5 separate regions of the Homo sapiens genome follow, and regions 1, 2, 3 and 5 are each linked to region 4. The links come from fine-mapping of genetic effects on gene expression. A gene starts in region 4. Each other region holds a variant in brackets. All regions are shown on one strand. Distances are between the middles of the regions.

Evidence for each region. PIP is the estimated chance that this variant, and not a neighbour inherited with it, causes the effect.
Region 1: its variant is fine-mapped to the expression of SLC68A1 in whole blood (TOPMed, PIP 0.98).
Region 2: its variant is fine-mapped to the expression of SLC68A1 in whole blood (INTERVAL, PIP 0.90).
Region 3: its variant is fine-mapped to the expression of SLC68A1 in prefrontal cortex (BrainSeq, PIP 0.95).
Region 5: its variant is fine-mapped to the expression of SLC68A1 in whole blood (TOPMed, PIP above 0.99).

What each region holds. Positions count from the first base shown.
Region 1 is chr10:102,572,464-102,578,654 of GRCh38, forward strand. The region is part of intron 3 of SUFU (SUFU negative regulator of hedgehog signaling); the gene reads left to right. It also overlaps the pseudogene RPL23AP58. Among named protein-coding and RNA genes, the nearest start is that of TRIM8-DT, 68 kb to the right of the region's middle. The variant G/A (reference allele first, on the strand shown) is at 3,436.
Region 2 is chr10:102,497,474-102,503,664 of GRCh38, forward strand. ACTR1A (actin related protein 1A) reads right to left here and starts at 5,239. Exons shown (of 11, transcript NM_005736.4): 1 at 5,127-5,239. The coding sequence starts at 5,174. It also overlaps a transcript of SUFU not described here. RefSeq lists enhancers at 3,223-3,723, 5,118-5,217 and a silencer at 5,568-5,637. The variant C/T (reference allele first, on the strand shown) is at 4,129.
Region 3 is chr10:102,525,667-102,531,857 of GRCh38, forward strand. The region is part of intron 2 of SUFU (SUFU negative regulator of hedgehog signaling); the gene reads left to right. Among named protein-coding and RNA genes, the nearest start is that of SUFU, 25 kb to the left of the region's middle. The variant C/CT (reference allele first, on the strand shown) is at 3,295.
Region 4 is chr10:102,458,544-102,464,734 of GRCh38, forward strand. It overlaps SLC68A1 (solute carrier family 68 member 1), which reads left to right and starts at 2,852. Exons shown (of 10, transcript NM_024789.4): 1 at 2,852-2,907. LOC124902493 (a long non-coding RNA gene) reads right to left here. Exons shown (of 3, transcript XR_007062270.1): 3 at 2,250-3,517. RefSeq lists enhancers at 2,371-2,440, 2,568-3,251, 3,252-3,934 and a silencer at 2,711-2,930.
Region 5 is chr10:102,741,521-102,747,481 of GRCh38, forward strand. SFXN2 (sideroflexin 2) reads left to right here. Exons shown (of 12, transcript NM_178858.6): 12 at 1-1,972. WBP1L (WW domain binding protein 1 like) reads left to right here and starts at 2,428. Exons shown (of 4, transcript NM_001083913.2): 1 at 2,428-2,623. The coding sequence starts at 2,534. RefSeq lists enhancers at 2,075-2,124, 3,065-3,294 and a silencer at 2,405-2,564. The variant C/T (reference allele first, on the strand shown) is at 2,552.

The sequences.
Region 1 (6,191 bases), 110 kb after region 4:
ACTACAACCTCTGCCACCCGGGTTCAAGCAATTCTCCTGCCCCAGCCTCCTGAGTAGCTGGGATTACAGGCACCTGCCACCACACCCGGCTACTTTTTGTATTTTTAGTACAGATGGGGTTTTGCCATCTTGCCCAGGCTGATCTTGAACCCCTGACCTCGTGATCCACCCTCCTTGGCCTCCCAAACTGCTGAGATTACAGGTGTGAGTGAGCCACCATGCCCAGCCTTTTTTTTGTTGTTGTTATGGTGAAAAGATATACATATATTTAGAATTACCCAGCTGGACTCAGTTTAAATGATCCCAATTTTGTTGGCAACATCCAAAGCATCGTAATCAGGAGCCAGTCCAACATATGCCTTCTTCTCTCCATCACGCTGAATCAGGGTGTTGACCTTGGTCACATCAGTGTCATAGAGCTTCTTCACAGCCTATTTGATCTGGTGCTTGTTGGCTTTAACATCCACAGTGAACACAAGTGTGTTGTTGTCTTCTATCTTCTTCATGGCAGACTCAGTGGTCAGTGGAAACTTGATGATAGCATAGTGGTCAAGCTTGTTCTCCGGGGTTGGTCTTCTGAGGGTACTTGGGCTGCCTCCAGAATCGCAGTGTCTTGGGCCGCTGGAAGGTAGGTGACGTGCGGATCTTCTTTTTTTTGTGGCTGTGGACACCTTTCAACACTGCCTTCTTGGCCTTCAAAGCCTTTGCTTTGGCTTCGGCTTTAGGAGGAGCAGGAGCTTCCTTCTTTGCTTTCGGCACCGTCTTGTGAAAAGGGCCTCCATTTTAATTAACACAAAATCATCTACTTTGGCCTCACAGCCGTTAGAATGGCTACTATCAAAAAAAGAAAAAACAAAACAAAACAGAAAATAGTATGTTAGCAAGCATGTGAAGAAATTGGCACCCTTGTACACTGTTGATAGGAATGTAAAATGGTGCAGCTGCTGTGGAAAATGGTCTGGTGCTTCTTCAGAAAGTTCAAAATGGAATTACTGTATGATCCAGCAATCTCACCTCTGGGTATGTGTCCAAAAGAATTGAAAGCAGGGACTTGAACAGATATTTGTGCACCAGTTTTCATAGCATCCAAAAAGTGGAAGTAACTCAAGTGTCCATCAACAGATGAATGGGTAAACAAAGTATGGTATATACATATAATGGAATATTACTCAGCCTTAATAAAAGGAAGGAAATTCTGCCACATGCTGCAGGCTACAACATGGATGAACCCAGGAGACATTATGGCAAGTGAAATAAGCCAGACACAAAAAGACAAATATTGTATGATTCCACTTACATAAGGTACTTAGAGTAGTTAGGTTCATAGAGACAGAAGGCAAAATGTTGGTTTCCAGGGGTTGGAAGCAGTGGAATGGGGAGTTACTGTTTACTGTATAGAGTTTCAGTTGGGGAAGATGAAAAAAAGTCCTGGAAATGGAAGCTTCTTATGGTTGCACAACAATATGAATGTACTTAATGCCACTTAAAAATGGCTAAATTGGTGAATTTTATGTTGATGTATTTTACTACAACTAAAACTGAAAAAAAAATTAATAAATGATTTGGGATGTTACTTTACATCTTTAAAATATCTTTACTTTTGCCATATTCTGTTAGCAAGAAGCAAGTTATAGGTCTCGCCCACACTTGGGGGAAAGTATTAGACAGGGCTTGAGTACCAAGGGGATTGGGGACCATGGGGGCACCTTAGAGTCTGTCTGCCACATTTCCTAAAACTCAGAAGCAAAATAAAACAAGTGAAATTCACAGCATACCAAATTGGTGTCAAAACAATATACAGAGATCTTAAACTATAGTAATTTGTCTGTATATCCCTAATATATACACAAAGACAGAAAAAACTGTTTTCAGTAATCATGTTGTTAATAAAAATATTGACTTTAACCTAAAACTAGTATATGGATATAATAGGATAAAGCAAATAAGTAATTATGTTAGAAAGCAAGATGTTCAGCATAAGATTAGAAAGATACAAATATATGGCCAGGCGTTGTGGCTCACATTTGTAGTGCCAGCTGTTTGAGAGGCTAAGACGAGAGGATTGCTTGAGCCCAGGAATTTGAGCCTGCAGTGAGCTGTAATTGTGCCACTACACTCTAGCCTGAGTGACACAGTGAGACCTTGTCTCTAAAACAGTAATAAAATAAATAAAAGATACAAATATAAAATCAAATAAGTAAAAATGTTATATTCTTAAATTTGGATTCTAATTAGCAAGATGAACAAAAGATGTGTTTTCTCTTTCTTTTAAAAAAAATGTATTTTATCTTCGTCACTAAAAAAGCCTTGAAACAGGCCGGGCACAGTGGCTCCTGTAATCCCAGCACTTTGGGAGGCCAAGGCAGGCGGATCATGAGGTCAGGAGTTCAAGACCAGCCTAGCCAATATGGTGAAACCCTGTCTGTACTAAAAATACAAAAAATTAGCCCGGCATGGTGGCATGCACCTGTAGTCCCAGCTACTCAGGAGGCTGAGGCAGGAGAATCACTTGAACCCGGGAGGCGGAGGTTGCAGTGAGCTGAGATTGAGCCACTGCACTCCAGCCTGGGTGACAGAGCAAGACTCTGTCTCAAAAAAAAAAAAAAATTAGGCATGGTGGTGTGCCTGTAGTCTTAGCTACTCGGGAAGCTGAGGTGGAAGGATTGCTTGAGCCTAGGAGGTTAAGGCTACAGTGAGCCATAATGGTGCCACCACACTCCAGCCTGGGAAACAGAGCAAGACCTTGTCTCAAAATTTTTTTAAAAAGCTAGCCTGGTTGAAAATGCCAGTGGTGCCATTTTAGTTGCCAGCCAAGGATGGCTCCTAATGTTCTAGTCCATTTTCTGCTGCTTATAACAGAATATCTGAAACTGCTAATTTATAAAGAAAAGGAATTTATTTCTTACAGTTATGGAGGCTGAGAAGTCCAAGGTTAAAGGGCCCCATCTGATGAAGGCCTTCTTGCTGGTGAGGAGTCCCTGCAGAGTCCCAGGGACATCACATGGCAAGGAGGCTGAACTTGCTAGCTCAGGTCTCTATTCTGATAAACCCACCAGTTTCTACCCCCATTGTCCACCTCTGTGATAATCCATTAACTTATTAATCTATATATGAGGGCAGGGCCCACATGACCCAATCACCTCTTAAAGGCCCCACCTCTCAATACTGCTAGATTGGAGACTGAGTTTCAACATACCTTTTGAAGGAGGCAGACATTCAAATCATACCACCTAGCTTCCTGGCATGTCCAGATTAGTGCCACTGCATTTGGAGTGATGCCACAGTAGCCAGTGTGATGGCTGCTGGTGCCACATAGCAGAGGGGTCAAGGAGGAGGATCATCTTTCCAACATTAAGTATATAGATAATACATAAATAAATTTCAGATTTTTTTTTGGAAACGGGGTCTCTGTTGGCCAGGCTGGAGTGCAGAGGC[G/A]TGATCTTGGCTCACTGCAGCCTCAACCTCCCGGGCTCAAGTGATCCTCCCACCTTAGCCTCTGAGTGGCTGGGTCTACTGGCACATGCCACCATACCCCGCTAATTTTTCTGTGTTTTTTTTTTTTTGTAGAGATGGGGTCTTGGTATGTTGTCCAGGCTGGTCTTGAACTTCTGGACTGAAGTGATCCACCCACCTCAGCCTCCCAAAGTGCTGGGATTACAGGCATGAGGTACTGCAACTGACCTCAGATGTTAAAAACTTAGACTATACAGATAAAGTCAAAGTTCTCTGTGACCACCCCACCCAATCTCAGGGCCCTCGCTAAAGAAACCCTCTTTATCCATTTGGTGTGCGTCCTTGCAGCTTGCCAGATTTTTTTCTATGTATTCACCTTCTTCTGGGTACCTATGAAATGGTTTGGGTTTCTATGTTTTTTTTTCTTTCTTTAATGTAAATGAAACTGTACTGCCCTTCACAATTGGATTTTTCAGTTGACGGTATGTCTTGAAGATCTTTATTTAATTTTTTTTACTGTTGTCTGTGATTTTATTGTATGAATAAACCATAATTTAACTATTCCCCTGGTGATGCACCTTTAGGTTGTTGCCATTTTTGCAGTATTACAAACAGTACAAAGATGCAGTGACCATCCTTATTCATTCCTCCTTGTGACATGTTTTGCTCTAGGGTAGATATTTATAAGTAGAATGATTGGGTCAAAGGGAAGTTACCTTTTATATTAATAGATTCTGCCATTTGGTCCTCCAAAGTGACCATACTAGTTTATAGGTCCATGGCAACTAAATGTTTTGTTTTGTTTTGCAGTGACAGGGTCTTTCTCTGTTGCCCAGGTTGGAGTGCAATGGTACAATTATAGCTCACTGTAACCTGGAATGCTTTGGCTCAAATGATCCTCAAGCCTCAGCCTCCCAAGTAGCTGTGGAACTACAAGTGTGCACCACCATGCCTGACTAATTTTTAAATTTTTTTGTAGAGACAGGGTCTCACTGTGTTGCCCAGGCTGGTCTTGAACTCCTGGTCTGAAGCGACCTTCCTGCCTCAGCTGTGGGATTGCAGGTGTGAATCACTGTACCCAGTCTAAATGGGTTTTCATTCCTGATTTAACTGGTCTCTTCAGGAAGAAGATGGGAGGAGTAGAAGCATGTCCTGGATTTTTTCTTTTCTTTTTTTTTTTTTTTTGAGATGGAGTCTCACCCTGTTGCCCAGTCTGGAGTGCAGTGGCACCATCTTGGCTCACTGCAACCTCCGCCTCCCAGGTTCAAACGATTCTCCTGCCTCAGCCTCCTGAGTAGCTGGCATTATAGGCGTCCACTAACACGCCAAGCTAATTTTTGTATTTTTAGTAGAGACAGGGTTTCACCATGTTGGCCAGGCTAGTCTTGGATTTTAAAGCTTCAAAGGATTTCCTGGGATTTTTTTTTCTTGTTTCTTTTTTTTTGGAAATGGAGTCTCACGTCTTACTCTGTCACCCAGGAGTGCAGTGGTGTGATCATGGGTCACTGCAGCCTCCCTCTCCCAGGGCTTAAGTGATCCTCCCACTTCAGCCTCTGGGACCACAGGCATGTGCCACCACACCTGGCTAAATTTTGTATTTTTTGCAGAGGCAGGGTTTTGCCATGTTGCCAAGGATGGTATCAAACTCCTGTGCTCAAGTGATCCACCTACCTCAGCCTCCCAAAGTGCTAGGATTACAGGCGTGAGCCACTGCACCCAGCCCTCCTGGCATTCTTTGGTTGAAATGTATATAGGACTACGAGTTGTTTTTTTTTTTTTTTTGAGACGTAGTCTCGCTCTGTTGCCCAGGCTGGAGTGCAGTGGCACGATCCCGGCTCACTGCAAGCTCCGCCTCCCGGATTCACGCCATTCTCCTGTTTGAGCCTCCTGAGTAGCTGGGACTACAGGTGCCCACCACCATGCCCGGCTAATTTTTTTGTATTTTTAGTAGAGATGGGGTTTCACCATGTTAGCCAGGATGGTCTCCATCTCCTGACCTCGTGATCTGCCCGCCTCGGCCTCCCAAAGTGCTGGGATTACAGGCGTGAGCCACCGTGCCTGGCCAGGACTACGAGTTTAAAACCTCCTTAGTCCCTTTGGCTTTAAGAACAAAGAGGCTGGTGGCTCATGCCTGTAATCCCAGTACTTTGGGAGGCCGAGGCGGGTGAATCACGAGGTCAGGAGATCGAGACCATCCTGGCTAACATGGTGAAACCCCGTCTCTACTAAAAATACAAAAAAATTAGCTGGGCGTGGTGGTGGGCGCTTGTAATCCCAGCTACTCGGGATCGCGCCACTGCACTCCAGCCTGGGCGACAAAGCGAGACTCCGTCTCAAAAAAAAAAACAAAAACAAAAAACAAAGAACAAAGAGGCTTGGGGCCAGGCATGATGGCTCATGCCTGTAATTCCAGAACTTTGGGAGGCCGAGGTGGGTGGATCACTTGAAGTCAGGAGTTCGAGACCAGCCTGGCCAACATGGTGAAACCCCATCTCTACTAAAAATACAAAAATTAGTCTGGGTGCAGTGGCACCTGTAACCCCAGCACTTTGGGAGGCTGAGGCGGGTGGATCATAAGGTCAAGAGATTGAGAACATCCTGGCCAACATGGTGAAACCCTGTCTGTACTAAAAGTACAAACATTAGCTGGTCATGGTGGCGCGTGCCTATAGTCCCAGGTACTCGGTAGGCTGAGGCAGGAGAACTGCTTGGACCTGTGAGGCAGAGGTTGCCGTGAG
Region 2 (6,191 bases), 39 kb after region 4:
CTACTTGGGAGGCTGAGGCAGGAGGTTTGCTCGAGCTCAGGAGTTTGAGGCTGCAGTGAGCTACGACTGCAGCACTGCACTCTAATCTGGGTGATAGAGTGAGACCTCATCTCTAAAAAAAATTTAAAAACAAATAATAATTAAAAATTAAAAAAAATCATAGGTGGAAAGGAGCACAATTTTTTTTTTTAAAGAGATGGGGGTCTTGCTGTATTGCCCAGGCTGGCCTTGAACAACACAATTCTCCTGACTTATCTTCCAGAGTATAAAAGGAGGACAATTTTATGATGATGGTTGTTTTGCGGATTATTTGTAAAACAGAGAGAAAGGATAGGGTTGCCAGGCACAGTGGCTCATGCCTGTAATACCAGCACTTTGGGAAGCTGAGGTGGGAGGACTGCTTCAGCCCAGGAGTTCTAGATCAGCCTGGGGAACACAGGGAGACCCCATTTCTACAAAAAAAAAAAAAAAGGCTGAGCAGGTGGTACACGGCTGTAGTCCCAGCTACTTGGGAGGCTGAGGTGGGAGGATTGCTTAAGCTTGGCAAGCTGAGGCTGCAGTGAGCTTTGATTGTGCCAATGAGCCCCAACCTGGGCAACAGAGTGAGACCTTGTCTCAAAAAAAAAAAAAAGATAGGGTTGTGGAGGGGTACAAAGAGTCTTCAATTATATCTGTAATGTTTTATTTCCTTAAAACATGAAGGTGGATGGGAACACTAAAGCAAAAAAAATACTGAAGCAAATATGGCAACATCAATATTTACTAAATCTGGGTAGTAGACACATGCTACCTGGGTGCTTGTTATATACCACACCGAATTTTTCTGTGTGTTTAAAGTATCTCTCTCTCTCTTTTTTTTTTTTTAAAGGGGGCTGAAGCAGCACAACATCCAAAGCAAAACAAACAAATGCTTAGCTTATTGTTGAACTTCTGAAGAGCCTGCATTTAGGTCCATATAGTCACAAAGACAGTTTTAAGTTTGACAGGAATGTTGATCCATTTTAGGTTCAGGCAAAACTGTAAACTTAGAGTTTTTTTGTTTTTGTTTTTAAATAGGCTGGAGTGAGGTGCACGATCTCACTGCAGCCTCAAACTCCTGGGCTCAAGTGATTCTCCCATCTCAGCCTCCTACAGGTGCATGCCACCAAGCAAGCCTGGCTAATTTTTTTTTTTTTTTAAAGTAGAGATGAAGTCTCACTATGTTGCCCAGGCTGGTCTCCAATTCCTGGGCTCAAACGATCTTCCAGCCTTGGCTTTCCAAAATGCTGGAATTACAGGAGTAAGCCACCACATTTGGCCTGGATCTTAGGAAAAATTTGAGTTTCAGAATAAACATAGTATTCTGATCAAAGTGTAGTCCTCAAAATGTGGCCTAGGAGCTGCTCCTATCTTACACTATTCTCTATGTCTTTGGGAAGAAATGACTTATATTTGGTTTTAAAAAATATCTATCATCATAAAGCTTCTTGGGTGATTAAAAAAATACCTATCACTTTATTGTTGTCATTAAAGCACACACCTACCTGCCCCTCCATTTTCCTCATTAAATTCTGATGAAATGACTTGATGCCAGAGTAAGATGAAAGACGTGGTCACAATTGTCTTATGATTGGGAAAGGCTGTGAACTTAATGGGGCTCTTTCCCTGCTTTCTTTCTCCTGCATTCTTTTGATTATACTCTTCTGCCCATAAATAAAGTGTAGCAACATGTTAAGCTATGGAGTTAACATAGCTAGTGATACATTATTCTCATTATATGTAATAAGTTGTCTCAGGTATTTCAAATAATGTTTCCTATACATCTACCATCTTGAAAATAATAAAAACAAAATGACCCCCCAAATGTTAAACAACAAGGACTACCTGAGACCGCACATGTAAAAATGTGGCAGATTTTCAGCAAATACTAATAGGAAAATGACTTAAGTTTCTCCTACTTCACCTTTTGGCAGAAATACTGGCATAATAAAGGACATGTTTTCCCAGAGGGGGAAAAAAAAGACAAGTCAATTCTTTAAATCTTGAAACTAAAAATGCATCACTGCTGTAATGCATTTCGAAACATACTACCAGGAAAGAGAAAGAAAAAAATTAAGACGCATTAGTGTAAGTGATATTAAAGAAAATGGCCGGAGATGGAACTCCTGCCTAGCAATTCAAGAAGCAAAGGAGCTGGTGGGATAGACAGGTTGTTCCTTCTGCATTGCTGATGAAAACAGGAAATTGAATTTCTATATATTTTTCCTTTTTACAACTAAGAAAAAGGCAGAAGAAGCACAAAGAGCCTGGCTAAAGACAGAAATCGTAGTGCTCTCTGAAAATCAACATCAAGAACAAAAAGTCCTACTCAATTATCTGCAGTAACTAACTAGAGAAAACTCCCCATCTTTTCTTTATTTAGGAATATCTTTGTTACTTTGATAGAGATATTCAGTCATTCATCCAATCACCCATCAATCCAATGAAAAAACATTTATTGAGCACACAGAGGTGCCAGACCCTAGGTATACTGTGTGTGTGTGGAGAGAAGTGGGTGAAGTGAGACTAAAGGAATATCATCTTTCTTAAATTTTTTTTCCCAACACCACTAAACCTGTGGGAGAATATCATCTTTTTCCACAAGGATTTAATAGTCTAGTGAGGGAGACAAAAAGATCCTCTCAAAAATGAAGTATCTGGGCTGGGTGTGGTGGCTCATGCTTGTAATCCCAGCACTTTGGGAGGCCAAGGCGGGTGGATCATTTGAGGTCAGGAGTTCAGGACAAGTCTGGCCAATATGGTGAAACCCCATCTCTACTAAAAATACAAAAATTAGGCCGGGCGCGGTGGCTGACGCCTGTAATACCAGCACTTTGGGAGGCCGAGGTGGGCGGATCACGAGGTCAGGAGATCGAGACCATCCTGGCTAACACGGTGAAACCCCATCTCTACTAAAAATACAAAAAATTAGCCGGGCGAGGTGACGGGCGCCTGTAGTCCCAGCTACTCGGGAGGCTGAGGCAGGAGAATGGCGTGAACCCGGGAGGCGGAGCTTGCAGTGAGCCGAGATCGCGCCACTGCACTCCAGCCTGGGCGACAGTGAGACTCCGTCTCAAAAACAAACAAACAAACAAACAAACAAACAAACAAACAAAAATTAGCCAGGCGTGGTGGTGCACATCTGTAATCCCAGCTACTTGGGAGTCTAGGCTGGAGAATCTCTTGAACCTGGAGGCGGAGGCTGCAGTGAGCTGAGATCGCACAATTGCACTCCAGCCTGGGTGACAAAGCGAGATCCTGTTCCCTCCACCCCCCCACACCAAAAAAAGAGGCGTCTCTGCCAGGCACGGTGGCTCAGGCCTATAATCCCAGCACTTTGGGAGGCCAAGGTAGGAGAATCGCAACAGCCCAGGAGTTTGAGACCAGCCTGGACAACATGGTGAAACCCTTCCTACAAAAAATACAAAAATTAGCCAGGGGTGGTGGCGCGTGCCTGCAGCCCCAGCTACTCGGGAGGCTTAAGCGGGAGGATCACTTGAGCCCAGGAGGTTGAGGCTGCAGTGAGCTGTGATCGCGCCACTGCATTTCAGACTCAGCAACAGAGCGAGACCCTGTCTCCAAAAAAAAAAAAGAAAAAAAAAATGAGCTGTCTCATTGAGCTCAATCCTGCCCCTTTCTAAGGGGGAATAATAAAAACAAAATACCCATGGAGAGAAGGAAAATTTAATGAAAACAACAACAAAAATATATTGGAAAAAGCAAGCAACTTGGAACTGGATCTTAGTCTGATGACTGGCTCCTCAATTCCTAAACTGGATGGTTTGAAATCTGTTATTTAACATCCCTGCATACACTGGGGATAGTAATTCCTATCTACCTAACAGAGCTGAAGCTTAAACGAGAACATTGTAATATGCCTAAGGTCCCAAGAGCTGAATCAACAAAGGGAATCTGACAGAGTCAGCTTACAACAGAGGGAACTGGTAGTTTTGCCTCAATGGAGGGACCTACAAGGGACACAGACAGGGATCAATCTCTGTGGGACCAAAGCTTTGAATCGAAGGCAGAAATGCAGTCGTTTTACAATTTTCTCCTTTCCCCCCAAAATAAGAGCAGTATTTAGATTCTTTCTATTGGTCAATATTGATG[C/T]TTCTGCATGGTGGTGCTGGCAAAAGGGATGACGGATAAAGTACTGGATTTAGGGCACCTCTGCTATGTGACCTTGGGCTCACGTTACGTCTTCGCGCTTCAGTTTTCTCATCGGTAACACGAAGATCAAAGTTCCTTTTAAACTATGCGTCCAGTTTTTGTGAGGATCCAACTCGAATGTATGTGAAAACGCCCTGGAAGCGCTAGAGCGCCAGGCAAATATTAAGTTTGGTAATTTTTTCCCCGTAAGAACTAGGCGTTCCAAAGAGGAGGACAACCTCTCTGCTTCCTTTGTCACTCTCCTTTCTTCTCGACCTTTACCAACTTTGTAATTTATAATCACAGTAATAGCTGACATCCTACAGCGGTTTCTGGCACCAGATTCTCGGGCCCCACCCAGATCCACACCACCAAGCCGCAGCGCCGGCTGAGACCGAAGGAAAACTTAGCCGTTCTCCACCCGCGGGCGGGCACTCGCCTCTAGGCCCCACCACCCAGAGTCCCGGAAGCCAATCCCCACAGCCCTGGAGCACTGCCCCGCCCCTTCAAGAGGGAAAACAATATGGCGGCAAGGAAGAATGGCAGGGGCGTGAGCCAATCACCGCAGAGGCCTAGCCTCATCCGGCAAGGCTAAGAGGCGGTATCATTGGCTAAGATGGACAGCCAGAGCAACCAATAGAGCGATCGGAAATGGGGGAGAGGGCGGGCGACGGGAATCTCACACAGCGGTTAAGGCCCCTAGAGCCAAGGGCCCAAGGACTGGCTTGGACTATAACTCTTTCCTTTATCCACTCCAGAGTTCTCCATCCCACTTTTGCTGGCTGGCCGCCTTGCCTGCGGACTATGTGATAAGGGGAGGAAGGAGGCGGCGGTGGCTGAACGCGCCTGACAGGCCGGGCCAGTGACAAAGAGCCGGCGGCTCAGGCTGAACCCCGGGAAGCGATCCTTTCGAGGAGGAGAGCCCAAGTCCCCTTATAGATAGGAAAGACGCAACTCACGTTGTCGATCACGACAGGCTGGTTGGCGATCACATCGTAGGACTCCATGGCAGAGGAATCTCTCCTTCTGGGGAAGGAACTGCCCAGCCGGGTCCGCCGCTAGCGCCACTGACACGCATGCGCAGTCTAGCCGCCGGTTCAGGGCGGCGAGGGAGCGGCCCGACCTCGCCTCTGAAGAACTACAATCCCCAGCAAGCTTTGCGCCTGGGTTAGCGATCTAGCTTGCTTTGTTGCCCGCCTAGTTTAAGATTGGGAGTCGCATTTCCAATGCGCAGTACCCTGGGATTTGTGGTCTCCCTAGATTAAACAGCCAGAGACACAGGTTGATGGTCATGTTGCATGCCTGGATCTGTAGTCCCTTTGAAGGAGTTCGCAGTGCATGCTGAGGTATGTAGTCTTCTCGAGTACTTGTCTGTAGTTCGGTTTGGATTGGTCGTAATTCATGGATGTTTGGATTTTGCAGATCAGCCCTGCCACTCCCCCCGACGTTCCCTTAGACAATATAAGGTTCTCATGTTTTTATTTGGGTCTGTAAGACTTTAATAAACATCTCCTAGCACCTCACACTCTAACAAAAAGGAAATGTTAACACACGTACGCGAGAGGACATATTCCTACAACAAAGGAAAACAATTTAAATTGCATAAAATTAGCTTTAAGTTTAAAAACCTGTACATTGTCGTTGCCTTTTGCATTTTCTTTTTTTCTGCATAACAGGCTAACATTGATCCGAAGATTGGCAATTGGAACTACTGGTATAGGTAATCTTTTGGTCATTAAAACATCATCTAAGGGTTTCAGAAACTGCTCGAGTATCTCTTTAATTTTCATAACGAGCTAGAATTGACACTGATGGTTGAGAAAATGGAGGTGAAGAGAGGTTATGTGTCACTGCTTTCAAATGAGCCCAGTGCATTTTTTTCTCTGGATTATGTTCTCCCCCAGCCCCCTTGAAATTTCAGGGACCTTTTTGTCAATAGCCCTAGAAAACATTAGATTTATTATCATCTATTAATACTAACGCCCCATGGATGAATGAATCAATCCATTGTCAGATTTATGTTT
Region 3 (6,191 bases), 67 kb after region 4:
TAGTTTCTTGTATTTTTAGTAAAGATGGGGTTTTGCCATGTTGGCCAGGCTGGTCTTGAACTCCTGACCTCAGGTGATCCACCTGCCTCGGTGTCCCAAAGTGCTAGGATTACATGCATGAGCCACTGCACCTGGCCTATTTTCATAAATTTTTAGAGCACATTACCTAAATATCCAGTGCTTTCTTAGTGCTGAGGATACCATGGAAAGCAAAGCAGGCAAGGTTTCTGCTCTCATGAATCTTATATTCTTATTGGAGAAACATGAAAAATTTTATATAGTTTTAGATAGTACAAGTGCTGTGTTGAAAATAAAGCAGGGCCCCAGCTACTCAGGAGGCTGAGGTGGGAGGATCACTTGAGCTCAGGAGTTCTGGGCTATTATGCACTATGCCAGTCAGGTGTCCACACTAAGTTCAGCATCAATATGGTGACCTCCCAGGAGCATGGGACCACCAGGTTGCCTAAGGAGGGGTGACCTGGCCCAGTAGGTCAAAACTCCTGTGCTGATCAGTAGTGGGATTGTGCCTGTGAATAGCCACTGCACGCCAGCCTGGGCAACATGGGGAGACCCTGTCTCTTAAAAAAATGAAAGTAAAGCAGGGCGCCAAGTGTGGTGACTCATGCCTCTAATCCCAGCACTTTGGGAGGCCACGGGGGGGTGGATCACTTGAGCCAGGAGTTCGAGAGCAGCCTGGGCAATGTGGTGAAACCCCATCTCTACAAAAAATACAAAAATTAGTCAGGCATGGTGGTGCGTGCCTGTAGTCCCAGCTACTTGGGAGGCTGAGGTGGGAGGATCGCTTGAGCCCAGGAGGCAGAGGCTGCAGTGAGCCAAGATCGTGCCACTGCACTCCAGCCTAGGTGACAGAGTGAGACCCTGTCTTAAAAAAATAAATAAAATTAAAAAAGCAGGGATGGTACTCTGGAGCTTACATGGGTAGAAGTAGTGGTTGAGGTGGGTGGGGAGGATGCTGTTAGCAGTAATCAGTGATGGCTTCCTTGAAGATTTGAACTGAGACCTCAAAGACCGGTGGCAGCCAGGGCTGTCACATTGTACAACTCTAGGGCCACCGTTCACATTATTCTGTGCAATTGCTGCCCCCTGGAGTTGTACAATGCTGGGAGTCCTGATGAAGGTCCTAGGCAGTGAAACAGCTAGTATAAAGGCCCTGAGGGCAGCACGGACCTCGAAGTGTTTAAGGAAAAGAAAGAAGGCCAGTGCATCTGAGGCTTGGTAAGAGAGAACAGTGGAACAAGATGAGGTTGCAGAGTTTGAAGACAATGTAAAGAATGTGACATTCAATAAATTATAATTATTATTATTGTTTTTTTTTTTTTTTTTTTTTGAGATGGAGTCTCGCTCTGTCGCCCAGGCTGGAGTGCAGTGGCAGTGGTGCGATCTCAGCTCACTGCAAGCTCCGCCTTCTGGTGTCATGCCATTCTCCTGCCTCAGCCTCCCAAGTAGCTGGGACCACAGGCACCCACCACCACGCCTGGCTAACTTTTTGTATTTTTAGTAGAGACAGGGTTTCACCGTGTTAGCCAGGATGGTCTCGATCTCCTGACCTTGTGATCCGCCCACCTTGGCCTCCCAGAGTGCTGGGATTACAGGCGTGAGCCACCGCGCCCGGCCGACATTCAATAAATTATTTGTTGACTGATGAGGAAAGAAAAAGGATGATATGATGGAGGCTGGAGTGGGGTTTTAGGAAGCATTCCAGTGTGGGACCTCAGCTTTAGTATGAAGACAGGAGAACTGAGTTGAGTGACGGTTTTATTTCCCCAAAAAGGAAATAGTAGCAAAAGTGGCTCAAAGGAAATACCATTAAGATATATATATATATATGTATATTTATAGTACATCATGACATTCAAAGCCATGAAGATATTTGAATCTACTTTGATAGTGACTAAGAGGGAGGCACATTGCTTTTTAATACCATCTTATCTTGTTGAATGTCTCGGCTTGATTATCTCTTTGGGTGGCAGTGGGAATATTATTACCATTTAGCATTGCTCAGCCATGACATGATGTATTCATGTACAGAACACACAAAAAGTACAGTCCTTGCCCTTGGGGAACTGAAATGCCAAAAAGATTTGTTTCTTCCCATTGCCCTGTTTAGGTTTCTTGATCTTCTGGGATGGCTGGCTTCCCAGAGTTCTGGAGGAGAGTGGGTGGACAAAAGGCCCTTGGGTAGATGCCTTGCCTCTTGGGTCAGTAAGAAGTCCCCAAGCTGCATACTTAGGCACAGAGGGCACCTCGCTTCCCAAATCAGACTGTGATCTTGTCGCCATTGGCCTAGCCTGTCTTTTTTTATTTTTAAGAAGACCTTTGTAAAGGTGTTGCTTTAAGCCAAAGCCAAGAGTGGGAGCTACCATATTGATGCCAAGAAACCCAAGCACTGGGCTTCTTCCTTGGCCCAGAATTCCTGTAGCGCTCCAGGCTGGCTTAGGAGTCCCCTGGGGGCTGGCTGACCTTTGAGTTTGGGGGTGGTTGGGAGTAGATGGAAGAAGGTGCAACAGATGTCCAGCAGGGGATGGTTGAATGTGAGCTTTTACCACCCTGCAAGAAAGGGTCTGGTGCCCTTGGCTTAGAATTTCTAAAATTCAGTATCTTGGCTGGTACAATGGCTCACACCTGTAATCCTAACACTTTGGGAGGCCGAGGTAGGAGAACTGCTTGAGCCCAGGAGTTCAAGACCAGCCTGGGCAACATAGTGAGGCCTCATTTCTACAAATAATAAAAAAAATTAGCCAGGCATGGTGGCATGTGTCTGTAGTCTCAGCTACTCAGTGGCTGAGGTGGGAGGATTACTTGAGCCCAGGAGATCAAGGCTGTAGTGAGCTGTGATCACGGCACTACACTCTAGCTTGGGCAACAGAGTGAGACCCTGTCTCAAAAAATAAATAAAAATAAAATTCAGTGTCTTATTCCAGGAAACCCTTTGCTCACTGAAAGCCCAGGACAGAGTTAAGCTGCCTGAAGTGTTGGGAGCCGGAAGAGTTTATTTGACTGGATTCTCAGCCGAATCAGTGCTGGGAGCCACTGTTTTTGAACTTGAGGAATGCTGTGGGAACATGGTCTTTGGCTCCCAGCAAAATGTCTCAGGAACCATCTACTTGAGTGGGGCAAATGCATTCCATGAATCTGGTTGGTTGGGGTATAGCGCAAAGAAAGCTTCTATAACCCAGAGTTGCAACTCAAAGGTGGCTGCTGCACTGTAGCCTTATTGGACTCCCAGGTCAGAGTATGAGAGTGCAGTCTTCGCTGATGTGGCTTTTTTCCTTT[C/CT]TTTTTTTTTTTTTTTTTAAGATTATATAAAATTGATTAAATATAACGAGATTTATGGGTTTTTTTTCTATTATTTTGTTTTTATAACTGGAGGCTTAAAAGCTTAGCTATATCAGAATATTATCATATAAACATATTTCAAAAGTTATTTTTACAAAGTTTTGCTACATACAGTAGTATTTGTGTTGTCACCCAACACCATTTTCAAATGTCTAATAAAGTATCAGTAATTTTGAATTATAAATAAAAAATAATCTCTGCAGTTGTTTATTTAGTAGTTGTTGACTGAATTCTGTTGTAATGGCTGTGACTCAAAGCATCTCACAAAGGAAATCTCAGGTCTGGTTAGAAGGTTCTGGGAGGGACCCAAGGTCAGGAAATTGGGTGAAGCTGAAAGCAGCTTTTGAAGGACTGGGCTGATTAAGATCCAGAGCCCAGAAGTTAGGGAAGCTGGAGGCATCTGCTGATATTTTAAAGGATAAATGATGAGCAGAGTTTGCTTTGAGTGAGTACTAAGAAAAGGAAAGTTGCAGCCAGGCTCAGTGGCTCACGCCTGTAATCGCAGCACTTTGGGAGGCCTAGGCGGGTGGATCACGAGGTCAGGAGTTCGAGACCAGCCTGGCCAATATGGAAGGCTGAGGCAGCAGTGAGCCATGATCATGCCACTGCACTCCAGCCTGGGCAACAGAGTGAGACTTTATCTCTACTAAAACCCCATCTCTACTAAAAATACAAATATTAGCCGGGAGGCCAAGGCGGGCAGATCACAAGATCAAGAGATCAAGACCATCCTGGCCAACATGGTGAAACCCCATCTCTACTAAAAATACAAAAATTAGCTGGGCATGGTGGCATGCACCTATAGTCCCAGCTACTCGGGAGGCTGAGGCAGGAGAATCGCTTGAACCCGGGAGGCAGAGGTTGCAGTGAGCCGAGATCGCGCCACTGCACTCCAGCCTAGCGACAGAGTGAGACTCCGTCTCAAAAAAAAAAAAAGAAAAGAAAAAGGAAAGTTGCACACTAACTGCCGTGGAAGGGCACTTGCTAGGTGCCAGACACTGTGCTGTCACACTAAAACCTCCCACCCTATGAGATGAGTGTTCTTCTCCCAGTTTTACAGATGAGGAGCCTTGCACACATGGAAGTTAACTTGCCCACCAGTCAGCTAGAGAAAGGTGGAGCTGGGGTTTGATGGGCTCAGTTGCTTCCACAGCGTGTATTCTCGTCCACTTTGCTGGGCTCCTCTCTGGCATCTTATTGGGATGCTGGAGTAATATGTTAATAATTTCATGCAGTTTCCACCTAAGTCCACCCAGAGACCTCCAAAGGGTCCAAAGATCGTGAGACTAAGAATGTCTGACACCTGCCTTCCTCACTTCCCAACTTCCCTGTCTCTAAGCCAGGCTCAACACTCTGCCTAAGTCCTTCAGCCCATAACCTTGGGCTGGCATTTAGTTTCTCTTTACCTTTGTCCACTATTTTAAATCTTTTTTTTTTTTTTTTTTTTTAATGGAGACAGGGACTCACTCTGTTGCCCAGCCTGAGTGCAGTGGCACAGTCATAGCTCACTACAGCCTCAAACTCCTGGGCTCAAGTGGTCCTCATGCCTCAGCCTCTTGAGTAGATAGGACTTCAAGTTTGTGCCACCATGCTTGGTTAATTTTTAAATTTTTTATAGAGATGGGGTCTCACTATGTTGCCCAGACTGGTCTTGAACTCCTGGGCTAAAGCAATCCTACTGCCTCGGCCTCCCAAAGTACTGGGATTACAGGTGTGAGCCACCATGTCTGGCCTTCTGTGACTCTTAATCCCAAGGAAATAACCCAAATATGGGAAGGAAACGAGGTAATATGCACAAAAATATTTTCCAAGGCATAGCTTTGGAAGCAACCTTATGTCCAACAAGAAAGCAGTGGTCAAATAGAGGACTATATATGGTTTTCCTGGTTTTGTAATAAATGATAATAGTAATTATCAAGAAAATTGTAGTTTCTTGGCTGTGCATGGTGGTTCACACCTGTAGTCCCAGCGCTTTGGGAGGCTGAGTCAGGAGGATTGCTTGAGCCCAGAAGTTTGAGACCAGTCCAGGCAACATAGCAATACCCCATAACCCATTTCTACCAAAAAAAAAAAAAAAAAAAAAATGTAATCAGGTGTAGTGGTGCACACATGTAGTCCCAGCTACTCAGGAGACTGAGGCAGGAGGATCACTTGAGCCTGGAAGGCTGAGGCAGCAGTGAGTCACGATCATGCCACTGCACTCCAGCCTGGGCAACAGAGTGAGACTTTATCTCTAAAAGAATAAAAAATAAAAATAGTAATTTCTTAATTGTGTAAACTGACAGATCAAAAATTGGAGAGCCTTGGAGTCTTAACCAAGGGGCCAGGCACCCCCAGAGTCAACATCAGAAGCTCAAAATTGCAGGACTGGTTCAGCCTCATTACTCCCATCGCCCAGCCTTTGTAGTCCCAACTGGCTTTGCTGGACAGGTCACCTTTCTTGTTGAGCTGATGCCCATTCCTTTGTTCGGCTGCTTTCACTGAGCACTCCTGTGCCAGTCAGTGGGGTGTACAAAGGGGTAAATCCTGTCCTGATGGGAGAGATAGGCAGCTGCAATACAGCAAGGAGAGTCCTGTGATGGAGGTTTGCACAGGGGTAAGGAAGAAGTGATGAGAGCCCTCTCTTGGTCAGGGTCCCAAATAAGGGATTGGTGCCTTCAAAGTAAGATATTGGAGGAAGGTATATTTATAAAGGAATAGCATAGGGGATAGTGATGTAACCCAGGGCTAGTGGTTGGCCTGGCTGTCACTCTCCTAAGGCTGAAGGGACCAGAAGAGGGAGTGGGATCCAAGAACCTAGAGGAGAAAGTTGTGTTGAGTGTTCTTGAGAGTGACTG
Region 4 (6,191 bases):
AGATGGAAACTTGGGACACCCTCCCTTTTCCTTTAGAGGCCCTGGGAGAAAGTGCCGCAGTGAAGGGGACTGAGGAGGAATTATTAGGTAGGAAGAGAACATGGCAGAAACTAGATCAGAGAGGTGGGAAGTAAAGGGAGGAGAGAATTTCAAAGACAGAGAGTGCACAATCTATCTGTCCCATGGTCCAGGGACTCCGGTATGGCTCAATGAGTTAGGGAGGTGATATGGCCTCTAGTTCATTGCATTTCCCCTCCCAGTTAGCTCTGTGACTGGCAACCACAAAGAGAAATCAGACAGAATCACAAGGCCCTGCCCTGATGCTGACATAAAAGGTAACTGGCTACGTTGTCTATATAATCAGAGGGTTGAGGGGCCTCAGAGTGTAACTGTGGGGCATTAAGTGCAACGTGAGAGACCAAAGGTCTTTTCTTTTTTTCTTTTTTCTGTTTTTCTTTTTTTTTTTTTTTTAGCCAGAGTCTCACTCTGTCGCTAGGCTGGAGTGCAGTGGTGCAATCTTGGCTCACTGCAAATTCCGATTCCCTGGATCAAGCAGTTCTCCTCCCTCAGCCTCCTGAGTAGCTGGGATTACAGGCACACGCTACCACGCCCAGCTAATTTTAGTATTTTAGTAGAGATGGGGTTTCACTATGTTGGCCAGGATGGTCTCGATCTCCTGACCTCGTGATCCAACCACCTCAGCCTCCCAAAGTGCTGGGATTACAGGTGTGAGCCACCTTGCCTGGCTGTGAGGGACCAAAGGTCTTTTCTCCTGGGTCACATCCAGCTCTGGCCCCTGCCAGCCCTCCCCATTTCCATTTCCCCACTGGATACCCAGGGAGGGCTAAGTAAAGACTCGGGTTTGCTTTGAAATAAAAGCACATGCTGGCCACAGATAGAAAGGCGGGGAGACTCCTTTAGCAAATGTATGGAGATCCCAGTGTGCCGGACCCCAGGCTGAATGCTGGGTTTTCTGTTCTCACAGCCAGGAAAGCACAGATGGAGGTAAGAGGTGAGGAGAGGGACAAAATGATCACCTGTCTTCTACTCATGAGGCTTTCTGGATCAGGAGGAGTTTCAGCAGTTGTCTAAGTCTAGAAGAGAGATGGTTGTATGTATGTGTGTGCGTGTATGTGTGGCTTGGGGTGACATGGGAAGTGTGAAGGGTGTCCGAAAGAGAGAGATTGGGAAGGAGGGAAATGAGACAGGTTAGTGGGAGATGGATTCTGGGGGCAAGGTTCATGGCATCCCTGGGGGCTCCTCAGGAACTGGTTGAATAATCTGTAGCCCCTGGACACTAGGCGTCTACATTGGACCATTTGCTGTGGTTGTTAGGAGGAGGACAACATTCCTGTTGCAGGAAGTTAGCCGACAACCATCAATGAAGGTCATAAGGATGAGCAGTTCACAAAGCTCCTACACCCTTGTTTCTCATTTAATGTCTGAAAAATCCCTGTAAAGCATAAAACAGACTCACAAAAGGAGGGTCCCAGCCAGGTGCAGTGACTCACGCTTATCATTCCAGCACTTTGGGAGGCTGAAGCGGGAGGGTCCCTTGAGCCCAGGAGTTCAAGACCAGCCTGGGTAACATAGTGAGACTCCATCTCTACAAATAATTCTAGAAATTAGCCAGGCATGGTGGAGTGAGGTGGTGGTCCCAGCAACTTGGGAGGCTAAGGTGAGAGGATCATCTGAGCCAGGGAGGTGGAGGTTACAGTGAGCTGAGATCATGCCACCACTGCACTCTAGCCTGAGCAACAGAGCAAGACCCTGTTTCAAAAAATAATAATAAAGAAGTCCCTTAGCAAAGAAGTGTTGGAGCTAGGGGTTGAGTTCCAAGTCCCCCATAAGGCAAAGGCCACAGGCTTTTTGCCCTGTGTCCCAAGGTAGGGGAACCAGGCAGAGCTGGAATGTGTGCTGTTTGCTTGCCCAAAAACCTATCCAGGCTTACAGGCCAATTGGGAGAAAACATAAAACATCCTCCACAGCCTACATTGAGCCAAACAAAACTTGATTTTGAGGGATTGTGCAGGTGTGGGAAGAGGAAAGACTCTTGTTATGGGAGTCAGGATAGCGGGTTCCACCTCGACTGGGCCCTTGCTGTTTGCGTGTCATTGAATCTCTCTGAAATGCAGTTTCTTCACATATAAAATGTGGATAAAAGCGCCTACCTCCTAGGAATGATGTGAGGACTCAACAAGAGAATGCACGTGTTGTTCTGAATGTAGTACGGTGCACATAGCAAGCACTCAGTACTCCTTAGGTTTTATTATTGCCGTTATTAATACAAAGAGGTTGTGCTGCATGGTTGCTCATTCAGGCCCTGGTGGCTGTTTCCCACCTTCAGCCCTGGCTCCTGTGGCTAGAGCCCTGGTGCCCACAGCTCAACCTGGACCTGTCCACCCTTGAAGGGCTCATGATGCAGCATCAGGGAGTCCCAGATCGAGCCGCTGACACCTCCAAGTCGGCTGCAGCTGTGCATCCGCTCAGACCACAAGACTCAATGGAGGATGCTGACCTCTCTTTGTTCTCCCAACGAGTACTAGGCAAGGAGGGAAGGAAGGTGAGCGCTTAGAAAAAACGTGTTGGTTTCAACTGAAATGACATTAAGCTATCGTGGAGGTAAAGGAGAGGGGTTGAGCCGGTCAGGAATCCAGGCAACCTGACCCTATTTGCCAGTGTCCGCTTTTAATTTTGGTCGCTAAGGGCAAGCGCCCGTGACAAACATGGCGGCGGCAGCCTCAGGCGCAGTCACCTGCCGGAGCTGCGCCCGGGGGCCGCGCGGAGCCAATCGCTGGGCGGGGGCGGAGGGAGAGGCTGGGGAAGCCCTAGAAGTGCGCGCAGGCGCATTGGCTCGCACCTGGCTCCCGCCAGCCGTGGGATTAGGCTTCGCCGGCTACGATTGCGGTGAGACGCTGGCCAGCGGCCGGGGCTCGCGGGCAGGAGCGGGCTGGGCTGGGGCCGATCTGGCACAAACGACAGACCCGAGGGGGAGGGGAATGCTTTGCGCTCTGGGAGTCATGGGGGCTATCTGCGGGGGTCTTTGGGGTGATCATATTGTGGATTGGGAGAGTTGTGTGGTCCGGGCGGAAGAAGCGGGGTTCAAGGGGGCAAGGGTGGAATCCTCGCAGAAAGGCTCTCCGGGGGTCTGGAGGAAAGGGATGCAGTGGGTCAAATAGCTCCCTGGTGGTCTGGGATCGAGGGATGCACTGGTCAGGTCGGGATCCGTGCCATTAGCATAAAGGCATTTAACCCTGGTGGCACTTGGGGAGCTTTGAAAAACACCGATGCTGGGCCCGCCCGAAGAGATTCCGATTTAACTGTTCTGGGTGAGGCCTGGGCCTCGGTATTATTGCACAGCTCCTCAGGTGATTTTAACGTGCAGGCGGTGGGGAGCAGCCCTACACGTGTTTCAGCACCAGCTATTGAGTGAAGAGCTCCTGGGCTGATCCCAAACTCCTCAGTGGCTTGGGAGGGGTGGGTGGTCCTGAGGTGAAGCTGTCGCCTCTTCTGGGACCTGTGGGGGAGGGAGAGGGAGAAGGTCCCCATCTCAACAAGTTGAAAGCTCATTTCCAGCCGGAGGAGGAGGATGGGCCCCCACCCCCCAACCCTGGTGCTAGACCCTGCTGTGGGGAGACTGGGCAGGAAGACAAGACCCCGAGAGTGAAACAGGAAACACAGCAGACAATTCAGGGGTCAGCTGCCTGTTGAGAAAAGGGCACATATTATACCTTTCATGTTCATTTGTTCATTTGGTATTCCTGAGGATAGGCAGAGAATGGAATTGTTTTCTCTGCTTCACAGATGTAGGAATAGACTCAGATAGTAAGTTAAAGATAATGTTCACACCTGACCCAGGGCTCCTGACTCCAAATTATGCCTCTTCTTAGCTTTTACCTCTGCACTAATGTCTCTTGTACAGTCTGATACCTCTCACTCCAGGGGCCCAGTTCGGCATTCTTGGTTTCCGCCACTAAATTCATCAACCTCCCCCACCCACCATAGGTTGGTTCAGAAATCAGGGAGATGTTGCTGCTTCCATCCCTTTCTAGTCTTTACCTACCAGGGGCCTGGTAGGGTGAAGGGGAAGAGTTTTGACACCTGCTAGAGGGCTTCTTCCAAACAGATCTGTCACTTCCCCACCCCCAGCGCCCCACCTGTTGTCCTCAGCATAGAATCTTGCACAAGGTTTACAAAACCCTTCCTGATGTGGCCCCTTTCTCCCGCGCTGCTCTGAGCTCTCTTCCCAGATTGTTTCTGTGTCTCTTAGCACAGTGCTGTGCACCCGGCGAAAGCTTAATAAATGTTCCTCTGTTATGATCACTATTCTTCTTTGTACCTGCTGCCTTGCTTTAGTGTCTTACTCAGAGAGGCACATCAAGCCTCCCAGGCTGCCCCTTCTCTCTGACTCCCACAGTTAAGCAGAACACAGAGCTAGGAGGGGCACAGTGGGGTCTGAAGATGACAGTTTTCCTATGACTGCTGCTGCTGTTCCCTAGGGCTGAGGATGTTGTTGATATTGACCTTTTAGGGGCCAATCGACCCAGCAGGGATTGACTGAGCAAGCTGAGGGAGCCTGGTGGAGGCAAAGGGCAGGGATCAAGGGCGGGACTAACCCAGCCCTGCTTTTTTTTTTTTTTTTTTTAAGAGACGGAGTCTCACTCTGTCCTCCAGGCTGGAGTGCAGTGGCGCGATTTCGGCTCACTGCAAGCTCCTCCTCCCGGGTTCACGCTATTCTGCCTCAGCCTCCCGAGTAAGCTGGTACTACAGGCGTGCCCGCCACCACGCCTGGCTAATTTTTGTATTTTTAGTAGAGAGGAGGTTTCATCGTGTTAGCCAGGATGATCTCGATCTCCTGACCTCGTGATTCGCCCGCGTCGGCCTCCCCAAGTGCTGGGATTACAGGCGTGAGCCACCGCGCCCGGTATCAGCCCTGCTTTTAAGAAGCCTGTGGGCTGGAGGAGGGGAAGGGAGGCATTTGGATGCCTGATAAGGGGGAAAACGGGAGAGAACACGTGATTGGGTGTGCTTGGGAAAGCCGTGACACTGGATGAGCAGGATTTGATAAGATGGGGGCAGGGTGTGGGGGGGATGATGAAGTGAGAACGCTGTTGTTTTAGTCAAAACCTGTTTTGAATCTTGACTCCAGCACCTACTAGCTTTGTAACTTGGGCCTGTTATTTAATCTTCAGAGCCTTGGTTTCTTCATGTACAGAACGTGAATGCAGATAGTAACAGAGCTGTAAGGGGTCTGATGATGGATATAAAAGCCAAGCATACCCTGTATGGCTGAGGAATAGTATATAGTTATCCTAGGGTATCTTAGGTGACAGGAACAGCATGAACAAAAGTGTGGAGGTGGCATTTAGAAAGGAATTTGATGGATGGCAGACAAGAGGGGCTAGGATATTCCAGGTGGCAAAAGGCATAAAGCTTGGGTGCTGGAAAGACAATTTCAATCATGGATTTGGCAGAAAGGTCAATGATTTTTATTTTTGATTGATGTTGCCCCAGCTGGTCTCTAACTTCTGGCCCCAAGTAATCCTTCTGTCTTGGCCTTCCCAAGTCCTAAAATTACAGGCATGAGCCACAACGCCCCACCTAGTGACTGATCTTTAAAGATCATGAAACCACACGGTGGCTCTCGCCTGTGAGCCAGCACTTCAGGAGGCCAAGGCGGGCGGATTGCTTGAGGTCAGGAGTTCAAGACCAGCCTGGCCAACGTGGCGAAACCCCGTCTGTACAAAAAATACAAAAATTAGCCAGGCATGGTGGCGCACGCCTGTGATCCCAACCATTTGGGAGGCTGAGGCAGGAAAATTTCTTGAACCTGGGAGGCGGAGGTTGCAGTGAGCCAAGATCCCACCACTGCACTCTAGCCTGGGCGACAGAGTGAGACTCCGTCTCAAAAAAAAAAAAATCATGAAACCAAACTTCAAAGAAATGGAAAGAAAATGGCTACTGTAGGCCGGGCGCAGTGGCTCATGCCTGTAATCCCAGCAGTTTGGGAGGCCAAGGTGGGTGGATCACAAGGTCAGGAGTTCAAGACTAACCTGACCAACATGGTGAAACCCTGTCTCTACTAAAAATACAAAAATTAGCTGGGCGTGGTGGTGCATGCCTGTAATCCCAGCTACTCGGGTGGCTGAAGCAGGAGAATTGCTTGAACCTGGGAGGCAGAGGTTGCAGTA
Region 5 (5,961 bases), 280 kb after region 4:
AGAATCCTAAAGGTTTCCTGACTACAGGTACATGCCACCATGCCCAGCTAATTTTTAAATTTTTTGTAGACAGAGGGCCTCACTATGTTTCCCAGGTTGGTCTTGAACCCCTGACCTCAAGCAATCCTCATGCCTTGGCCTCCCAAAGTGTTGGGATTACAGGCGTGAGCCACTACATCCCACCTGGGGTTTCTTAGTGATGATGAAACCTAGCCTTTATGTGGAAGACTTACAACTTTTTGAGGCCAGGAATTAGAGACCTTGTGCCATGAAAATAATTTGGTCCTTCCCTAGTACTCAATTTTTACTTCTCCTCTAAGGAGCTTGACTTGTGGAATGGATAAATTTCTAAGAAACGAGAGATTGGCAAAAATACGTGTCACTTTTTATAGTACTTGGAAAAGCAGGATCAAGATAAAGGCAGAACTATGGACTTTCTTAAGCTGAGGGAAGACTGACTTAACTCTTACCTGTTTCCCATTTTTCCAACACTTAAGCCAAGAACAACTTCCTCTGGGCTCAGATGTGGGCTAGACTGGGCCAGGCTGTAAAACACTTTGACAGGTTTTTGAGAGGAAATTGACTGCTAAAGTCAACTGTGTTATTTGCCATGGGTCTTCCTTTGTCCATTTATTTTACCAACTTTTTTTTTTCTTTTTTTTTTGAGACAGAGTCTCACTCTGTCACCTAGGGTGGAGTGCAGTGGCACAGTCTTGGCTCACTGCAACCTCTGCCTCCCAGGTTCAAGCGATTCTTCTGCTTTAGCCTCCTGAGTAGCTGGGACTACAGGCATGCACCACCACGCCTGGCTAATTTTTTGTATTTTTAGTAGAGATTGGGTTTCACAATGTTGGCCAGGCTCGAACTCCTGACCATGTGATCCGCCCACCTCGGCCTCCCAAAGTGCTGGGATTACAGGCAGGAGCCACCGCACCTGGCCTTTTTTTTTTTTTGAGACAGGGTCTCACTCTGTTGCCCAGGCTGGAGTACAGTGGCACAATCAAGGCTCATTGCAGCTTCAATCTCCCTAGCTCTGGTGATTGTCCCACCTCAGCCTCCCAAGTAGCTGGGACTACAAGTGTGCACCACCATGCTTGGCTAATTTGGCTAATTTAGTTTTTTTATTTTTGTAGAGACAGGGTTCTCTCCATGTTGCCCAGGCTGGTTTCAAACTCCTGAGCTCAAGGGATCTACCTGCCTCAGCCTCCCAAAGGGCTAGGATTATAAGCATGAGCCACCACACCTGGCTATTTTACCAACATTGATCAAGCTCTGGTTGAGCCTTGTACAGGATATTATAGGCTTTAAAAGAAGAAGAAGAAAGACCTGGTATGCTGTACAAAAAACTGCAAACCAGGCACGCAGATATAAGTGTTACAAGAATCCAGAAGAAGCAGCAAGGAGATGGGGCTAGGAGTTTGTAAGCAGGGAACTGTATCTGTAATATGTAAATGAAGTTACTGGGCATCTCTTCAATGGTCAGTGTGAGTGGAATGTGTGGGAAAATGTAGTGGTGAGAGGTGAGATAAAGAGAAGTAGACAGGGACGAAGTCACAGAGAGGACCGTGTTGGGAAGTTTGGACTCTCTATTCTGTAGGTAGATGAAGTATTTAAAAGAAGAGGCCATGATATAGTAATATTTGGTTTAATGTGGTATGGTTGTAGTGTGTGGCGGAAATTTGAGAGGAAGAATTGTCAACTTGCAGGGCAGCAGGGAAGCCATTTGTATTTAGCTAGAAGAACATGGATTGAAGCAATGGATGATGGATTTCAGAGCAATTTGTGAAGTAGAACCAGAATTTTGTCCGTCGAACTTGGGGTGACGAAGCACTATGCCTCAGATAAAGGTACTATCTTCTAGGGAATTCAAACGGACCTAAGCTGCTATTTGGGCAGTTGAGACCAAGAGAGGCATCCTGGTAATAGTGCTGTGCTTCAAGACAAAAGACATTAAAATATTTTTACATTGCAATTGTTTTCCTCTTCAGGAGCGCCTGGTTACCTTTCAGGAATAATTTATTTTCCAACACCCTTGAGAAACATTAAACCTTTTTTCTTTTTTTGATGTGGAAAACTGGAAAACTAGTACTTCCGCCACACTCAAGATGGCTACATCAGAAATAGACTTTTCCATCCACCTGGGTGGCCCCGCCCCCTTATGAAGCTGCTTCCGCCACTCTCTGCGGGTTGGGACGAATTTTACACTTCTTCGCAGCATTCAAGATGGTCCGGCTTCCTCCTACTTTTTATTGGCTGCATCGCTTCGTCTTCAGGGGAAGGCGGGACTTATATTTGATCGACAGCTACATTGATCAATGGACAAAGGGCAAAGGCCAATGAAGCGCTGGAACTGGAGAGTCTCTCGCGTGTCTGGGAGGGTGTTTTGCGCGGGGCGGGGTGGAGCAGAGCCGGAAGCGGGAGGGGAGCGTCAAACAGGAAAAGAAGGGAAGAAGGAAGAAGAGGGTAGAGGAGGAGAGGGAGGAGGAGGAGGGAGGTGGCGGCGCCGTGGCGGAGGAGCAGGAGCAGGAGGGGGATGGAGAGGAGAAGGCTC[C/T]TGGGTGGCATGGCGCTCCTGCTCCTCCAGGCGCTGCCCAGCCCCTTGTCAGCCAGGGCTGAACCCCCGCAGGTAAGGGGGAGGGGGCGTCTGGGCCATGTTGGGTCCTGGGGGTCGTCGAGGCCTGGCTGGAGGGGTCTGAAGGAGTGTTGTTGCCAAGAGTTGAGGGGTCCCGAGAGGGGCGTCTATGCCTGGCGTGGACAGGATCTAAAGGGGCGTCGGTATTTAGCTGAGGGACACCTGTGACAGTTTTGGTGTCAAGGAGGTGGCAGAGGCATGATGCCAAGCGAGTGAGGGGCGTTTGAGACGGCAGGTTGGTTAGGTGGGCTGGGGTGACTGTGGCTGGATAGCGGTGCCAAGCTGAGGATGTGGGCCTTATTCGTGTCCCTCTGTGGAGCAGGTGTCCCAGGCAGTAATGCAGTATGTACGTCTGTGTGTGTAGGGGTACACAGGCTATTGAGTTGGCCTGTGAGGGAGGGGATCCTGAGGATATTTCTTTAAGGATGGACTGGGGAAAGTTCCGAGGGCATCTTAGTACGTTTAAAAAAAATTACTATGTTCCTGGGAGAGACTTGGCCCCATTTTAAAATCTGTAAGCCATGGCGCACTTGGTTGGAGGGAGGACTCTCAGAAGGCAGGTGGGATGAAACAGAGTGGAACCCCTCAGGAGGAGGAGCACACTTGAGCTGTAACAAGCTCTTGCTGTTAGGCTGGCTGGCCTGGGAGAGCAAGTCACGGATGCTGATCTGAGCCAGCTCAGGGCTTTTGACCAGAGGGTGGTTCTGATGCCAATATGGGCAGCAAATGGAGCACCCTAGCTTTTCTTGCTGGGTGGCTTGCTCTTTATCCAGGCAGAGAAGCTTGCTTGTGCTGATTCCAGCTCCAGCTGGCATTTCAAAACCCTAATGGGAGCGTTACTCCTGGTGCCAAGTTGGGTGGGGTGCAGTGGGGGCAATCACCCCTCCTTCCTTGCATGTGGCAAAGCTTTATGATTCTTTTTTCTTCACTTTCTGTTCTTTTCCCCGTTTTTTCAGAAAGGCATACACACATAGACGCATAGCGTAGTGGCAAAGTTTATACAACTTAGCGCTTGAACTTGTGTTGTGAACAAGAGCAGAAACTGAGTGCCAGCAAAAATACTTATCTTTTCCCTAGGAGTTTTAGGGCTGCCTTTTCACAAATACATCTTGTTTTGCCCATTATCCTCTATTTTAAAATACTGATTAAAAAATAAGTTGAAATTCACATGACAAAAACCATTTTAAAGTGAACAATTCAGTGGCATTTAGTACACTTACAATGTTGTGCAACTACCACCTCTATCTAGTTCCAAAACATTTTCATCACCCCAATAGAAAACCTCGTCCCTACTAAGCAGTTACTCTCTGTCTCCCTTTTCCCCCAGCCCCTGGCAACCACCCGTCTGCTTTCAGTCTCTATGGATTTATCTATTCTGGATATTTTATATAAACGGGATCCTACAATATGTGGTCTTTGTGCCTGGCTCCTTTCACTTAGCGTAATGTTTATAAGGCCCATCCACATCGTAGCATGTACTAGTACTTCATTCCTGTTCATGACCAAGTAACATTCTGTTATCTGTAAACCACAATTTATTTATGCATTGAAGTGTCTAATTTTTCCTCAGGATATGTTTGTGTATACTAGAAATACCATGTGAAAGGAATGTAGCTCATTTTCTAGCCCAGTGTATTCCCTTTTCGAGGGTTGGGACCCTTCTGTTTTAGCCTTTGTTGGGGTTGTTTTTCCAGTGGAAATCATAAACTGGCAGAAGAAATATATTTTTTTTGTTTACTAGAAATGTTATAGCCCTCAGGACCAGTAAAGTTAAGTATAGGTATTGACAACAAAATATAGAATATAGTAAATACAGAATTTACTTTTCCTTTGCACATGTCTGTTTCTGTAAGTATCTCGAAAAGGCTGTCCCCAGTAACCAATAAATAACATCGGTAGAGGTTTGGTTTAGGAATGTCAGAGCCTTTGGAGATGGGCTGGTCAAAGATAGGAACTAGATCCACTTTTTCAGCAACGGGGATGATGGAAAGTGGAGGTTCCTACCAGGTCGTGGAGCCTGGGAGGTGTTGTGAACATGTGGAAGGGGATTGTTAATGTTATATTCTAATTGCAGTTTGCAAACCACAGGCTGCTTTCTTATATCTGTGGCACTTCTAATACTTAATTTTGGGGACAGGTGTCTTTTGTACTTTGTTCCATTTGGATGAATGCTATCACTGACCAACAGCTGTTACACGGTTACAATTCCTGCAGAGAAGGGAAAGTTTTCGTAATGAGCAGTGGCCCTCTTCCTAACCAGCCCCCACATACCCTCACTCCTGACGCTCCCTATACAATTCCATCCCCCACCTTATACTCCTGTCTCTTTCTGTCTGGGAGTACTAGATATCTATAGTGAGATTTCTGTTTTGAATTTTAACCTTCGGAATGCAAGTTACTATATAATTATTAACTCTGAATCCACCGCAATTTAGTCAGTGTATTTTTTTGGGTTTTTTTGGGGGGGGTGGGGGAAGGGGTTGCTTGTACAAATCAGTAAGGAAAAAAAAATCCCAAGGCCATTTTGGCACAGGGCATACTTTAAGTACCCATGGTCCTTAATTCAACAATGAAGTCCAGCTAACTTTGAATTCAGGAGGACTTACTATACTCATTCTGTATCGAATAATGGTATTGGTACCTTATTGCATTTCTCCCACAAAATTGATCTACTTACAATACAATCTTTTTTTTACATGCACAATCTTTTTTTTACATACACATTTACCATCAGAAATAAATGATACTAGGCAACTTGCTTTCCCTGTTACCAGCTCTGCACTGAAACAGCCATTTCTTGTTTATGCAGGCAGGCCCTGGAAAGTTCATCAGCTAGTTCATTCTGTGGTTAGGAACTTAGACTTAACTCTCCTACAGGTTATGACATTACAACTCACAGACGTGAATCCTTAAATCTATAAAGAATGAAAAAGGCTGGGCATGGTGGCTCACCCCTGTAATCCCAGCACTTTGGGAGGCCAAGGCAGGCAGATCACAAGGTCAGGAGATCAAGACCATTCTGGCCAACATGGTGAAACCCTGTCTCTACTAAAAATACAAAAATTAGCCAGGCATGGTGGCACACCTGTAGTCTCAGCTACTCGGGAGGCTGAGGCAGAAGAATCGCTTGAACGTGGGAGGTAGAGGTTGTGGTGAGCCAAGATCATGCCACTGCACTCTAGCCTGGTGACAGAGCGAGACTCCGTCTCAAAAAAAAAAAAAAAAAAAAAAGAATGAGAAAACAGTAGATGCTCCAAATAGTAAGGCTCCGACAGCCTTGGCGTTTGTTTCCTCCAGTTAAATTATCATTGAGATACATAGAGTTTCTTTTG